2 separate regions of the Homo sapiens genome follow, and region 1 is linked to region 2. A link means that fine-mapping ties the variant in region 2 to the expression of a gene that starts in the linked region. Tissue or cell type: whole blood. Region 2 holds a variant in brackets; the other region holds the start of a gene. All regions are shown on one strand. Distances are between the middles of the regions.

Region 1 (2,649 bases), 89 kb after region 2:
TTGGAACTACTGCTGCCCATATTTTTTGAAAAACAACACCATGGCTGTCTATTCTATCAAATCAAAAGAAGTTTTTTCACAGTTGACATATTAATTTTTCTACCTGGCTAAAGAAAATGTGCTTTTTAGTTTACTTATAACAATTTTGTAATTTAGATGTGGGGAGGGCTTGTCTTGGATATTATTGCTTCTTTTTGTTTTTGTTTCTCTTTCTTCTTCCTAGCTGTTTTCACTTCCTAGCTATTTCCACTATGGGTGCAATGGAGATGGTGACAGGAGTGTGGGCCAGAGAGAGGGGGAAGCCAGTGTGAGACGGACCTCTCCCAGCTATACATCTGGGAAGGGGAGTCTATAAACAGCTGGGGTTTTGTTTTTGTTTCATTTTTATGATAATTTGTTTGTATTAGTGTTTAATTCCATAACTAACACATAGATGGACTTTCCTCACAACAAAGGACGTCAAAGGTCAGTGCTCGCTCGGCCTGATCCCCTCTCACTCCTTAAGGGGTGGACGGGCGCCGTATCCTTCCCTACCTCTTTCTACCTATTTACACACAAGTTGGAAACTTGCAGAACTGTGAAAACTTCGAAAATCACGTCTCTTCCCTATTCCCCTACACACATCAGGGCTTCATCTGACAGTGGAATACGACCCGGGCCCCGGTGCTCACTCCCGGCGTTGCCCTTCGCTCCGGGACCTGGTGGTCCTCTCTCTCTGCGCCCCAAAACGCCCTGTCCTAGCTCCCTGAGCCCCAGGGACGCCGGGTCCTCTCTTTGTGCCCCAAGACTTCCTGCCCTTTCTCTTGCGCCCCGAGACGTCCTGTCCTCTCTCTCGCTCCCCGGGTTGCTCTGTGCTCTCTTAGCGCTCCAGAACGCCCTGTCCTCTCTCTTTGAGCCCCGGGACACCCTGTCCTCGCTCCCCGAGGCCCCGGGACGCCCTGTCCTCTCTCTCTCTGCGCCTCGGGATGCCCTGTCCTCGCTCCCCGAACCCCCGGGACGCCCTGTCCTCTCTCTTTGCGCCCCAGGATGCCTTGTCCTCGCTCCCCGAGCCCCCGTGACGCCCTGTCCTCTCTCTTTGCGCGTCGAGACGCCCTGTCCTCGCTCCCCGCGCCCCCGGCCGCCTTACCCTCCGAGGAGCGAGGCCACAGGGCAGCCGGGACCCCAGAGTAAAGAAAACCCTGGCCGGTAGCTTCATGTTGAGTCTCCAGAACTCGGGCCGGAAGGCGGCGCAGGCGGTTGGGCGCAGGGGGCGGGACAAAAAGAACAAAGTTCTCGGGGCTGGAAACGCTGCCTAGGCCGCCGGGGGATGGGACGGGGACTGGGACCCAGGCGGCGTGGACGCCCAGCGGCCCTGACCTTCAGAGTCCGGCCGAGGGCGCCGCCTAGCTGGGCCTAGCTGATGCTCTTTCCTGCTCTCTGGGCCAGGAGTGCTTTGTATGGCAGAGAATGGAGGTTCTTTGCGTCCTTGAGCGGGTGTACGAAACCCCGCGCCCTGCAAGGGTTTGCAGATTGCAGCTGCGCACCCCATACACTGCCTATCAAGGGCGAAACTCTTTTTCAGTCGTATGTGTTTATCCCTTAAGTGCGTGTTTAAGTGCAGAGTGCGCGTGGCGCCAAGTCACATATTATCAGAATAATAATATGTTGGATGTAAAACACGGCCTCACTTTCCCTAAGACCAAGAGGCTGAAAAACACTAAGGGCAGCTTCCGGCGTTTTGACTTTTCGCAGGACACACCGCCCCCTGTCGCCGGATGCAGCGTGACTGCGACCGCCCAGCCTTGGCTTTTTTCTCGAAGTTAAACACACGTTAAAGGCAAACACAGATTCAGTATATCATTCTCCATCTTAGTGTAATATACCTGTTGACACAAGGCATTAGCTCAGATCACATTTCTTTCCTCATTCGTAAAATGAGAATATTCATAGCTAATTCAGAATTTTAGATAAAAGAAGATGGGTGTGAGGCCCCAGGCTGAGGCTGATGGTAGATGATATTGAGTGTTTACTATTTGCCTGGCATGTTCCAAATGCTGATAAAGAAACATTTATATCTTCAGAGGAATGTACACTTACATGTAGACATATAGCTTATAAGGTATATAAACTCTGAAAAACTTTGTAATTTTGAGTTGGTCTGGTGATAATTTCCAGGCCTTCTGCCTGTAACTGGTTACAGAAATAAAAACTTTCTTCATCCCCAGTTCATCGACATCTCATTATTGGCAGCAAGAAATAGCAGCCTGACCCTCAGTTTGGTCCAGGAACAAAACTACCACAGATTGGGTGGCTTAAATGGAAATTTGTTTTCTCACAATTCTGGAGGCCACAAGTCAGCAGAGTTGGTTTCTTGTGGAGCCACTGTGGGACCATCTTCTCCCTGTGTCTTTACATGATCCTCCTGTGTACCTTTCCATATCTAAATTGCCTCTTCTTATGAGGACACCAGTCGTGTTGGATTAAGGCCCACCCTCAATGACCTAATTTAACTGGAATTACCTCCCTAAAGACTCTATCTCCAAATATAGCCACATTCTGACATACTGGGGGTTAAGAGTTCAATGTATATATTTGGCTGGGAGAAGAGGGAAGTACACAATTCAGCCCAGAACACTTGCCCTCTTAAATAACTTTTAGACCAGCTTAGGA
Region 2 (2,852 bases):
TTAGAGGCCCTAAAAATCACAAACTATGTTCAACTCACTCTCTACATTTCTCATAACTTCCAAAATCTATTTTCTTCCTCATACCTGACGCATATACTTTCTGCTCCCCGGCTCCTTCAGCTGTACTCACTCTTTAAGTCCCACAATTACCATTGTTCCTGCCCCGGACTTCAATCTGGCCTCCCACATTATTCCTGATGCCACACCTGACCCCCATGACTATCTCTCTGATCCACCTGATATTCACCCCATTTCCCCATATTTCCTTCTTTCTTGTTCCTCACCCTGATCATGCTTGATTTATTGATGGCAGTTCCACCAGGCCTAATCGCCACACACCAGCAAAGGCAGGCTATGCTATAGTACAAGCCACTAGCCCGCCTCTCAGAACCTCTCATTTCCTTTCCATCGTGGAAATCTATCCTCAAGGAAGTAACTTCTCAGTGTTCCATCTGCTATTCTACTACTCCTCAGGCATTATTCAGGCCCCCTCCCTTCCCTACACATCAAGCTCGAGGATTTGCCCCCACCCAGGACTGGCAAATTAGCTTTACTCAACATGTCCTGAGTCAGGAAACTAAAATACCTCTTAGTCTAAATAGACACTTTCACTGAATAAGTAAAGGCCTTTCCTACAGGGTCTGAGAAGGTCACCACAGTCATTTCTTCCCTTCTGTCAGACATAATTCCTCAGTTTAGCCTTCCTACCTCTATACAGTCTGATAACAGACCAGCCTTTATTAGTCAAATCAGCCAAGCAGTTTTTCAAGCTCTTAGTATTCAGTGAAACCTTTATATCCTTTACGGTCCTCCGTCTTCAAGAAAAGTAGAACGGACTAAAGGTCTTTTAAAAACACACCTCACCAAGCTCAGCCACCAACTTAAAAAGGACTGGACAATACTTTTATCACTTTCACTTCCCAGAATTCAGGCCTGTCCTCAGAATGCTACAAGGTACAGCCCATTTAAGCTCCTGTATAGACAGACGCTCCTTTTTATTAGGCCCCAGTCTCATTTGACACCAGACCAACTTAGACTGTGCCCCAAAAAAACTTGTCATCCCTACTATCTTTTGTCTAGTCATACTCCTATTCACCATTCTGAACTACATGCCCTGCTCTTGTTTACACTGCCGGTTTACACTGTTTCTCCAAGCCATCACAGCTGATATCTCCTGGTGCTATCCCCAAACTGCCACTCTAAACTCTTGAAGTAAATAAATAATCTTTGCTGGCAGGACTATGCTGAATCTCCTTAGGCACTCTCTAATCAGATGTCCTAGGTCCTCCCAATTCTTAGACCTTTTATACCTGTTTTTCTCCTTCTCTTATTCCATTTAGTTTTTTAATTCATACAAAACCGTATCCAGGCCATCACCAATCATTCTATACGACAAATGTTCCTTCTAACAACCCCACAATATCACCCCTTACCACAAGATCTTCCTTCAGCTTAATCTCTCCCACTCTATGTTCCCACACTGCCCCTAATCCCGCTTGAAGCAGCCCTGAGAAAAAT[C/T]GCCCATTCTCTCTCCATACCACCCCCAAAAATTTTCGCCGCCCCAACACTTCAACACTATTTTGTTTAATTTTTCTTATTAATATAAGAAGGCAGGAATGTCAGGCCTCTGAGCCCAAGCCAAGCCATCACATCCCCTGTGACTTGCACGTATACACCCAGATGGCCTGAAGTAACTGGAGAATCACAAAAGAAGTGAAAAGGCCCTGCCCCGCCTTAACTGATGACATTCCACCATTGTGATTTGTTCCTGCCCCACCTTAACTGAGTGATTAACCCTGTGAATTTCCTTGTCCTGGCTCAGAGTCTCCCCCACTGAGCACCTTGTGACCCCCGCCCCTGCCCACCAGAGAACAACCCCCTTTGACTGTAATTTTCCATTTCCTTTCCAAATCCTATAAAACGGCCCCACCCCTATCTCCCTTCGCTGACTCTCTTTTTGGACTCAGCCCACCTGCACCCAGGTGAAATAAACAGCCATGTTGCTCACACAAAGCCTGTTTGGTGGTCTCTTCACATGGACGTGCATGAAAGGATTATAAATCATAAAGCCACTTTGGCAAAAAGTTTGAAAAATTTTTTGAAAGTTAAATCTAAATGTATCTTATGGTTTAACAATTCTATTTCTGATAACCTACCCGGGATAAATTAGAACATTTGCCCACAGTTTTGTATGTGAATGTTCATAGCTGCATTATTTATAATAATGCATAACAGGAAGCAATCCAAATGTCTACTAACTGGTAAATGAATAGACAAAATATTCTGTATCTATAAAATGGAATACTATTGTATAGATAGAGCACATAAATAGTAATAAAAATGTAAGGGATATACAATAGAATAGTGCACAGGCATAAAAAGGAATGTATTAACAGCATTTGCAGTGACTTGGATGAGATTGGAGACTATTATTCTAAGTGAAGTAACTCAGAATGGAAAACCAAACATCATATGTTCTCACTGATATGTGGGAGCTAAGCTATGAGGACGTAAAGACATAAGAATGATACAATGGACTTTAGGGACTTAGGGGGAAGAGTGAGGTGGGGCGGTGAGGGATAGAAAACTACAAATATGGTGCAGTGTCTACTGCTCGGGTGATGGATGCACCAAAAATTCACGAATCACCACTAAAGAACTTACTCATGTAACCAACTACCACCTGTACCCCAATAACTTATGGAAATTTTTTTTTTAAAGTAAGGAAATGTTGATACATGTTACAATGTGGATAAACCTTAACAACATTAGAAGCTAAATGCAAAAGACTGCACAATGGATGATTCCATTTATATAGAATGTCCAGAAAAGTAAAATTTATAGAAACAGAA

The links. PIP is the estimated chance that this variant, and not a neighbour inherited with it, causes the effect.
Region 1: DECR1 starts here. The variant in region 2 is fine-mapped to the expression of DECR1 in whole blood (TOPMed, PIP above 0.99).

The regions. Positions count from the first base shown.
Region 1 is chr8:90,000,039-90,002,687 of GRCh38, reverse strand. It overlaps DECR1 (2,4-dienoyl-CoA reductase 1), which reads right to left and starts at 1,211. Exons shown (of 10, transcript NM_001359.2): 1 at 1,127-1,211. The coding sequence starts at 1,195. RefSeq lists enhancers at 585-724, 1,573-1,867 and a silencer at 1,195-1,294.
Region 2 is chr8:90,089,423-90,092,274 of GRCh38, reverse strand. No RefSeq gene overlaps it. Among named protein-coding and RNA genes, the nearest start is that of CALB1, 8.0 kb to the right of the region's middle. The variant C/T (reference allele first, on the strand shown) is at 1,519.